Linked DNA regions of Homo sapiens: region 2 is linked to region 1. Evidence: fine-mapped expression QTL. A gene starts in region 1. The other region holds a variant in brackets. All regions are shown on one strand. Distances are between the middles of the regions.

What was found. PIP is the estimated chance that this variant, and not a neighbour inherited with it, causes the effect. A credible set is the group of variants that fine-mapping cannot tell apart.
Region 2: its variant is the best candidate, but not a certain one, in a credible set for the expression of PHF11 in subcutaneous fat (FUSION, PIP 0.85).

Annotation. Positions count from the first base shown.
Region 1 is chr13:49,493,521-49,498,901 of GRCh38, reverse strand. It overlaps PHF11 (PHD finger protein 11), which reads right to left and starts at 2,949. Exons shown (of 10, transcript NM_001040443.3): 1 at 2,807-2,949. The coding sequence starts at 2,900. The region is part of intron 12 of SETDB2-PHF11 (SETDB2-PHF11 readthrough); the gene reads right to left. SETDB2 (SET domain bifurcated histone lysine methyltransferase 2) reads right to left here. Exons shown (of 14, transcript NM_001160308.3): 14 at 3,899-5,381. RefSeq lists enhancers at 2,368-2,417, 2,908-3,147, 3,458-4,143 and a silencer at 2,608-2,887.
Region 2 is chr13:49,572,333-49,577,713 of GRCh38, reverse strand. All of the region lies in intron 2 of RCBTB1 (RCC1 and BTB domain containing protein 1), which reads left to right. Among named protein-coding and RNA genes, the nearest start is that of RCBTB1, 11 kb to the left of the region's middle. The variant G/TG (reference allele first, on the strand shown) is at 2,280.

The sequences.
Region 1 (5,381 bases):
GCTTATTAACACTGGAAGGACCATGACTTACTTGATCTGTGTGTGTGCACTCACATGTTTATATGTGTGTGTGCCCATGTGTGTTTAAGAGAAAGACAGTGCTGGCAGCGGTGTGGAAGGTGGACTGCCTTACCCTCAGGGTCTTTCACCTAGTCTATTCCAGTGATCTCTTGTCCTTGTCTCTATTTTCCCTGTCATGATCCCACTGCATTCTTTATATTACTGTCAGAATGATCTATCTGAAATGTATTACGTTACTGTCAGAATGATCTACCTGAAATGCACTATGCTACTGTCAGAATGATCTACCTGAAATGTACTAGGTTACTGTCAGAATGATCTACCTGAAATGTACCAGGTCACTGTCAGAATGATCTAACGGAAATGTACTAGGTTACAGTCAGAATGATCTATCTGAAATGTACTAGGTTACTGTCAGAATGATCTACTGGAAATGTACTAGGTTACTGTCAGAATGATCTACCGGAAATGTACTAGGTTACTGTCAGAATGATTTACCAGAAATGTGCTAGGTTACTGTCAGAATGATCTACCGGAAATGTACTATGTTACTGTCAGAATGATCTACCTGAAATGGACATCTGCTCATATTTCCCCATCACCTACAGAAGTCAAGCTCCGTAGTGTTATATACAAGTACATTCATTCCTTCAACAAATATTTAATGAGGACTTACTATTATTTAATATTTAATGAGTACCTACTATGTCCTACTACTACTACTAGGCCAACCAGTCTAGGCACTAAGGATAGAAGAGAGTAAGACGAATTTACATGCCAGTGGCCAGTGGTAGAGACAGGCATTAAACAAGTTTTGTTTTGTTTTCCAGGTAGTGATAAGTACTATAGAGAAAGAATAGAGCAGAAGGAGGTAGAGAGTGACAGGAGCAGGGGCAAGGGGTGCTCTTTTAGACAGGATGGGCAGGCAAGGTTGAGGGAAGATGTATATGAGCAGACACCTGAATATGATGGGGAACTGAAAATGGGATAATGTGGCAATGAGTTTTCCTTGCAGAGAATAGCAAATGGAAAGATCCTGAGGCAGGGACAGCTTTGGTGGCTTAGAGGACCTACAAGGTAGCAGGGTAGCAGAGTCATTAAGATGGGCAGGAGTCAAATCAGATAAGGACATGGGGTAAACTGCAGGCCAGGCTCATAGATTGTTCTGAGAGTCATGGGAGACTATTGGTGGGTTTTGAGTAGGAGAATCACATTTGCTTTTTGTTTTTCAAAAAGCATTTTGGCCGCTCTGCAGGCCTGCCTGTATTAAAGGCTAGAATAGAAGCCAGGAAAGCAATAGTCCAGACAGAAGATCATGATGGCGTAGGCTTGGGTGGCAGTAATGGAAGTGGTGAGAAGCAGTCAGGCTCCAGATACAGTCAGGCTGAACACAGAACTGGCTGGCCCGACTGATGCATTAGAAGGGGTGTCCGGAGGAAAGAGAGGCCCTGAGGAGCCACTAAGGTTTTTGCAAGGAGCACCTGGGCGAATGGAATGGGCTGGTGGTTGAGCAGGTTTGGAGTACCTGAATACAGTGGAGGAAACAAGAATTCTCTTTGGGACATACTCAGTTTGAGATCATTTCAGAAATGGAAGAAGTTGGTTATACCAGTCTGGAGTTTGAGGAAGAGGTCAGGATGGAAGCGCATCTCCCGTGACTTACCTTACAGTCCATATGTATACCAATGAATGAAATATCCAACTGATTGGCTTGTGGTTGCCACGTATGATGTTTACGTGTGACGTTTTGTGGTTTGGTGCCTTTGTGTCATCCTCTCTGCTGGGAACACCCCTTCAACTTTTCCACCTTTGGCTGAGTCTTGCCCTTTAAAGGTAAGCCCATGAAACATGGAGAAACCCTCTCTACTAAAAATACAAAATTAGCTGGGCGTGGTGGCACATGCCTGTAATCCCATCCACTCGGGAGGCTGAGGCAGGAGAATCGCTTGAACCCGGGAGGCAGAGGTTGCAGTGGGCCGAGATAGCGCCTTTGCACTCCAGCCTGGGCAACAAGAGTGAAACTCCTCTCAAAAAAAAAAAAAAAAAAAAAGGGTAAGCCCAGCCATCCTCTCCTCAAAAAGCTTTCCCTGAAGACTGGGAGTCAGGAGTCTCTCATCTGTACCTCTGTGGTTCTGACCTCCTCATTAAAGTTGCCTAGTAGAGTCTCTAGGGCAGGGTCTGCCTAACTCATCTTTGTATGCTCAGGACCTTGCCCTGAGCCTGGCACACCGTTTGGAGCTATACACACACGCAAGGGCAGGAACCCATCAGAAGACCCACCCACTCAAGTAGAGGGCCGGGGAGGACTGGAACGACTGGAGAAGGGGAGACGGGTTCCAGTCACGTCCTCCGTGAACGTGAGACCCAGCTCTTCCCTCAGGGCCGCCCCCTGCCTCACCGCATCAGGGCGCCCCTCCACTGTCCTGGTTTACCGGTGAGCGGAGGGGCGCTAGGAGAGTTGACATCGGTTGTGGTGGAAGCACTGGGCTGTCACCCGCGGGGGAGGTAAACCGAAGCGTGCCCACCACTCGCGCGAAACCATGGGCAGTCAGAGCCACCTGTGGAACTGGCCTGGGCCGCGCCCTGTCCTCTGGCCCCCTCCCCCACCAACAGGCACGCGAGTGGTGAGCCAAGTTCGTCCAGCGCCGCCCCGGCGTCTAGGGCCCCGGCCCGGAGTAGGGGCAGGTCGGGCCCCCATGCGGCCACGACCGGAAGGCAGGCCCCTTGACCGGGCCCGTCGCTGCCCAGCCCCGCCCGCCCGCCCGCCCGCCCCCGCGGTACACACCGGTGGGAAGGAGGAGCGCCTCCTGCGCGGGCCGGGCCTCCGGGCTGCTGGCGCCGAGCACCCTCTCGGGCCGGGGCGGCGACGCCTGGGCCATGACTGTGCTGCAGCTGCGGGTGGCGGCCGGATAGCGAGATCCCGGAAGTGCCCCAGCTGCACTAGGTTTCGTTTTCTTAAATCTGGGCTGTCGCTTTGAGTCACTAGCCGGCCCGGGGAAAGTTGGGTGTGCAGAGAGGGGTTGTCACACACACTGCTCCAGATTCCAGTCTAGTCTTAATTTGAATAGCTTAAAAAACCCAAACGCCGGGAGCAGTGGCTCACGCCTGTAATCCCAGCACTTTGGGAGGCCGAGGAGGGCGGATCACGAGGTCAGGAGTTCAACACCAGCCTAACCAACATGGTGAAACCCCGTCTCTACTAAAAATACAAAAATTAGCTGGGCATGGTGGCGGGTGCCTGTAATCCCAGCTACTCCAGACACTGAGGCATGAGAATCGCTTGAATCGGGAGGCGGGGCTTGCAGTGAGCCGAGATCGCGCCACTACACTCCAGCCTGGGCTACAGAGCGGGACTCCGTCTCAAAACAAACAAACAAACAAACACACACAAAAAACAAACAAACAAAAAAACCCCAAACGCCAGGCTTCCCTACTCCACCCCCCACAACACAGCGGGAGAAACAATCACTCTCCTGAGGGTTCCTCCTAAAAACTATCATACTGGCCGGGTGGGCGCGGTGGCTCACGCCTGTAGTTCCAGGACTTTGGGAGGCCGAGGTGGGCGAATCACGAGGTCAGGAGTTCGAGACCAGCCTGGTCAACATGGTGAAACCCCGTCTCTACTAAAAATACAAAAATTAGCCGGGCTTGGTGGCGGGCGCCTGTAATCCCAGCTACTCGGGAGTCTGAGGCAGGAGAATCGCTTGAACCCGGGAGGCGGGGGTTGCAGTGAGCCAAGATCGCGCCACTGCACTCCTGCCTAGGCGACAGAGCCAGACTCCCTCTCAAAAAAAAAAAAAAAAAAAAAAAAATTATCATACCGAGTTTGGCTTAAATAAGCATATCTTAAAAGGACGCAGAATTAGCCGATCCTAAATCCAGTTGCCAGTAGCAAGCCTTTATTTAGCACCCATAGGGTACAGAGCACCATACAAGATGAGGTTTTCAGTGAATCTAACATAAATGCATATAATTATAGTTAAAAAATAAGTTGTTCTGGAAAAAAGACATATAATAGTTGGTGGTTTGCTGAGGAATTAAAGGAAAACTGGAGGTCTTCCACTTTCAGCAGGTTGTAAAGAGGAAGACTGCCAACTAGGGATAGCAGAAGAGAGAACATTAAAAAGGACAATTTGTATAGTCTTGACAACTATGAAATGAATTGCAGAAGAGTGTGGGGTCTGCAAAACAGGGAAGTGAGCAGACAGACCCTAGCAGCCAATTTTTAAATTTTTTTTTGCCCTCCATGCAGGAGGATGAAAGAGTATTTCTTGCCAGGCCAAAATGAAAGGCCCTTTATAAAGAGACTGACATTAGGGTGTTCCCCAGCAAGATAGCTCAGGTAGGTCATAGTAAAACAAAGAGCCCTTTACCACACTCTCAGCTTATAGTAAGCTTTTTGGTGTTCCACACTTAAATATGAGTAGACTACCAAGACCATTAACTCTGAGGAAAGCCTATAATGTGAACGACCAAAACAAACATACAGGGGAAACAAAGAAACAAACCCTGGAGGACACAGATTATGCCGAAAGAATACAGAGATGCATGCCTGTATGTGTATGTATACGTGTGTGCATATACATACATAAACACACAAACATCTTCAAGGAGATAAAATACTGCAACCATGAGCCAAAATAGGATGCTATTAAAAAAAAAGAATATTCGGAGAAGGGGAGCTCTTAGAAATTAAAAATATGAGACAATATGAGACTAGAAAAATAAAATGCAACAGATGAACTGGAAGATTAAATTGAGAAATGCTCCTAGGAAAAGGTCCTAGCAAGAAGACAGAGCTGAAAGTTAAGAGAAAAGATAGGAAAATTAGAGATCAAATTCTGGAGGTCTAACATCTGGAAAACAGGAATTCCAGAAACAGTGAAGAGATGGGAAATCATTAGTTTCAGACGGAATGATCCCACCAGGCACCTAGTACAAAGGATGAAAATGGACTCTTAACAGGGACAGAACATTGAGACAAAGATAAACCTATAAGCTTCAAGAGAGATAAAAATGGATTATATATGCAAAAGAGAAGGAACAGAATGGCATTCAATTTCCAGTAGTCACCCTGGAAGCCAGAAGACAGATTTTCAGACTCCACAGCAACAGCACTGAAAGCTAGCAGATGTCTTCAAAACTGGGCATGGAGACCACTAAAGAATCCTATACCTTGCCAACCAAAACAGCAATCAGGTATAAGGGTAAAATAAAGACATTGTCAAACACACAGAGATTCAAAACATTTACTTTTCATTTTTCCTTTCCAAAAGCTATTGGAAGAGCTTTACCAATATGTGGAAGAGTAAACCAAGGAAAAGGAAAATAATGGCATCTAACTGGAAACAGATCCCACA
Region 2 (5,381 bases), 79 kb before region 1:
GAATGACACAAACTCATTTCATGCTTCTAAAATGACACCAGAAGCGTCAGAATCTTGGTGCTCGCCAATGCTGAAGGATTGCTTACTCTTTTCCCACTCTTTTCCTTAGCTCTAAGGTCAGTAGAAGCCAGATCTAAAGGTAGAATACCCTATTGGTGGCATTTAAAAGCCAGTACATAACAGCAATTTAAACTAGCCCAAACAAATACATTCTGGTTAGTTGAGGTCTGTGTGGAAGCCATGTGCTTACAGATCAACCCTAAATTTCCACTGTTGTTTAATATTGAGAACATTATTTCATCAAAACCAGTTTTCCTGTACCATTTCTCTCCATTTCCTGTTGTTTTTAAAATCTCCATAAGCATGTTGAAATATATTTTTGCTAGATCAGTAAAATAAACTAAAATAAAATTAGCCTTTCCTTAATATTTGTTCCTTGGGGAAAGTAAAATAAATGTGCTCTTAGGGGAATTAAAAGATTAGTTGCTACATTACTCCTTCAGCCTTCCAGTTCTAAATGTAGATTTCTAAAATTGGAAGGCCTGTGTTTGTCCTGACTGAATTTGCTTTCAGAGTATAAAGTAAAATAACCTTTTCTTCCTCATGCCACAAGTTCTCTGAGGGACAGTGCCAATAGCTAGGATAAGCCATCCCAGGGAATGGGATATTGATCTGTAGGACTAATGGACGTAGGATAAGTGCAGTGGGGATACAGGATGTATTTTCAAGTGCCAGAGAAAATACGAAGAGCCAAGTGGGTTGGCATATTATCTTTAAGGACGTTACACTCTTTCTACCTCTGCTTGCATTTTTGCGTTCCTCTTTTCTTTCCTTGCACCCTTGTTTTATCTTTATACAGTTAAAAAAAAAAGTCATTGATTCACCTAATAATAACTCATAAAGAGTGGTAATTCAGGCTGCAACACATTAATATTGTTTTTCAGAAAGTATTTCCTAAATAAAACATGGAAGGCTTGCAAAAAAATTACTATCTTAGTGAGGTACTTCAGAAGTAACTATTTAAAGATGACTGACATTCTAATTACAGCTCATCATTTTTATAATTATCAAGATGACAAGCCCTGGAAGGACCTGTCATCTTAGCAATTTGTTTGGTCTGGTTTAAATTGCTGTATGCACTGGAAAATTCTAAGAAGGCTATATTTCTTTTATAAATGCTCCGTTGAGAATTTCCCTAATCTGAACTTATATTCTCAAGACATGATTAAAACAGTATGATTTTACTTTTCCAAACACATTTTTTAGGACTGAAACCTTTCTATATTTAATTTTAGAAATGTATCTTTGAGTTTATTAATGCAGTCTTGATAAAAGCCCACAGGATGATTATTTGATTTTAAAAAATTGGGGTAAAAGGTATATAGTGTAAAATTTACCATTTTAATGATTTTTAATTACACATTTTAGTCACATTATGTACATTCACATTGTTGTACAATCATCACCACCATCAATCTCTAGACTACTTAAAAAAAATCATCTCAACTTTTTTTTTTTTTTTTTTTTTTTTTTTTTGCGACGCCTGTCGCCCAGGCTGGAGTGCAGTGGTGCAATCTTGGCTCACTGCAAGCTCCGCCTCCCAGGTTCATGCCATTCTCCTTCCTCAGCCTCCCGAGTAGCTGGGACTACTGGTGCCCGCCACCACACCCGGCTAATTTTTTCGTATTTTTAGTAGAGACGAGGTTTCACCGTGTTAGCCAGGATGGTCTCGATCTCTGACCTTGTGATCTGCTCGTCTTGGCCTCCCAGAATGCTGGGATTACAGGCGTGAGCCACCACACCTGACCCAATTTCAACTTTTATTTTAGATTCAGGGAGTACATATGCAGGTTTGTTACATGGGTATAGCGTGTGATGCTGAGCTTTGGAGTACGAATAATTCCGTCACCCAGGTAGTGAGCATAGTATCCAATAGGTAGTTTTTTAGCCTGTGTACCCCTCCCTCCCTGCCCCTGTAGTAGTCTCCAGTGTCTGTTGTTCCTGTCTTTATATCCACGTGTACCCTATATTTAGTTCCCATTTCTAAGTGACAACATGTGGTATTTGGTTTTCTGTTCCTGTGTTAATTCACATAGGATAATGGCCTGTAGCTGCATCCATGATTTTGTTCTTCTTTATGGCCATGTAGTATTCCATGGTGTATATATACCACATTTTCTTTTTCCAATCTACTGTCAACGGGCACCTAGGTTGATTCCATGTCTTTGCTATTGTGAATAGTGCTGTGATGAACATACAGGTGCATTTTTTTTTTTTTT[G/TG]GTAGAACAATTTATTTTCCTTTGGATGTATACCCAGTCTTGGGATTCCTGGGTTGAATGGTAGTTCTGTTTTAAGTTCTTTGAGAAATCTCCAAACTGCTTTCCACAGTGGCTGAACTAATTTACATTCCCACTAACAGTGTATAGTGTTGCCTCTGCTGTACAGCCTCGCCAATATCTTTTGTTTTTGACTTTTTGATAATGGCCATTCTGACTGGTGTGAGATAGTATCTCATTGTGGTTTTGATTTGGATTTCTCTGATGATTAGTGATGTTGAATATTTTTTCACATATTTGTTGCCTAGAACTTTTTCATCACCCCAAAGTGAAACTCTGTACCCATTAAACAGTAACTCCCCATTCCTACCTCCCCCCAGCTCCTGGCACCCACAATTCTACTTTGTCTCCATGAATTTGACTGTTCTAGGTACCTCATGTAAGTGGAATCATGCAATATTTGTCTAACTTATTAGCATAATGTCTTCAGGGTTCATCCCTGTTGTTGTATGTATCAGAATTTCCTCCTAAGGGTGAATAATATTCTATCGTATGTGTAGACCACATTTTGTTTATCCATTCATCTGTTCATGGATATTTGGATTATTTTCACATTTTGGCTATTGTGAATAATGCTGCTTTGACCGTTGGTATACAACTATCTGTTCAAGTCTCTGCTTTCAGTTCTTTGGGGTATATGCTAGAAATGGAGTTTATCTAGATAATATAATTCTAATGTTTTTTTTTTTTTTTAAGGAATCACCATCTGGTTTTCTATAGCAGCTGTATCATCTTACATTTCTACCATCTACATTTAATTTTATATTAATAATTCATTTTTCCAGATTTTGCCTGAAACATTCTGCCACTCTACGTTATGAATCTAAAGCAAGAATACATCTTAAAACTTCTAACAGCCTAGGGGTAAAACATAATTCAAATAATTGAACTTTTATTTTCATTGGAAATATTTGTTCATTTTATTGGTCACAAAGTGTTTGTTATAGAAATTTGGGACTGGCCGAGCATGGTGGCTCACGCCTCTAATCCCAGCACTTTGGGAGGCTGAGGTGGGCAGATCACCTGAGGTCAGGAGTTTGAGACCAGCCTGGCTAACATGGTGAAACCCCGTCTCTACTAAAAATACAAAAATTAGCCAGGCGTGGTGGTGCACACCTGTAATCTCAGCCACTCAGAAGGCTGAGGCACAAGAATTGCTTGAACTGGGGAGGTGGAGGTTGCAGTGAGCCAAGATGGTGCCAGTGTACTCCAGACTGGGCAACAGAGTGAGACTCTGTCCACCCCCCACCCCCAAAAAAAGAAATTTGGGACTATATTTTAAAAATACAAAGAAGGCCAGGTGTGGTGGCTCACGCCTGTAATCCCAGCACTTTGGGAGGCCCAGGTGGGTGGATCACTTGAGGTCAGGAGTTTGAGACCAGCCTGGCCAACATGGTGAAACCCCTTCTCTACTAAAAATACAAAGATTAGCTAGGCATGGTGGTGTACACCTGTAATTCCAGCTACTCGGGAGGCTGAGGCACAAGAATTGCTTGAACTGATGAGGGGGAGTTTGCAGTGAGCCAAGATGGTGCCAGTGTACTCCAGACTGGACAACAGAGCGAGGCTCTGTCTCAAAAAAAAAAAAAAGAGAGAAATTTGGGACTATATTTTAAAAATACAAAGAAGGCCAGGTGCGGTGGCTCACGCCTGTAATCCCAGCACTTTGGGAGGCCGAGGTAGGTGGATCACTTGAGGTCGGGAGTTTGAGACCAGCCTGGCAAACATGGTGAAACCCCGTCTCTACTAAAAAAATGCAAAATTAGCCGGGCGTGATGGTGGGCGCCTGTAATCCCAGCTACTTGGGAGGCTGAGGCAGGAGAATTGCTTGAACCCAGGAGGCGGAGATTGCAGTGAGCCAAGATCGTGCCACAGCACTCCAGCTTGGGCAACAAGAGCGAAACTCCATCTCAAAAAAAAAAAAAAAAAGATGAGGAATTGTATCTAATTTCTAAAGGGGAAGTGAGGTAGGAGACTGATAGGACTTGTTTTCTGGCCACAACCCTGCTGACGAAAACAAACAAACGAACAAACTAAAGAAGTGGGGATGGCAGGCCAAAAAATAGAATAAAAATACAAAGAAAGAAAATGATGCCACCTGTAATCTCTCCATGGAGATATATTTTGGTGTATACATTTCTGTATATATTATACTTTAGAAAAATTGTAATCATACAGGACATATTGTTTTATAACATAGCTAAGCTAACTAAGTCTTACAGGGTACATTTATTTTTGTGGTTTTGTTTTGAATTTGGGATGTGCACATAGTTTAGCTGTATGACGTGTTTGGGTGGCAGCTTCTGTTGGGATGCTTCCTTGGGGGGTGCTTATAATTTGGACAAACCATAGCACCATGGGAAGGAAGAGAGTTGGGCTACCTTGCTCAGGGTACTTACCAAGGTACTTGACTGTCAGGGAAGGCCTGGGCTGAATAGGCCAGTTGAAGGTTCTTTCCATTAGCAGTGCCTCCTTCATACAGGAATAGAACACAAATAGAATCACTTCATATCTTCCTATTTGAAGCATCTAAATTATTGTGCAACCCTCTGGAGTGATTATTATTATTACTATTATTTTGAGACAGAGTCTCACTCTTATCACTCAGGACAGTTGCATAGTCTTGGCTCACTGCAACCTCTGCCTCCTGGGCTCAGATGATCCTCCCACCTCAGCCTCCTGAGTAGCTGAGATTACCAGCGTGCGCCACCACACCCGGGGTAATTTTTGTATTTTTAGTGGAGACAGGGTTTTGCCATGTTGGCCAGTCTGGTCTCAAACTCCTGACCTCAACTGATCTGCCTGCCTCAGCCTCCCAAAAGTGCTGGGATTACAGGTGTCAGCCACCGTGCCCAGCCTGGAATGATTATTTAAATGAAATTTAGTTGAACTACATTTATATTCCTTTGAAATGAAATCCATAGTTAGAATAAGTCTGTTAATACTTTTCTTTCATGTTTAGGCAAATTTAATAGATGTCATGATATCAGAGCTGTCCTAAATAATGTTGCTGTTCCTTGCAATGGATCCTGCATTTTTTTTTTT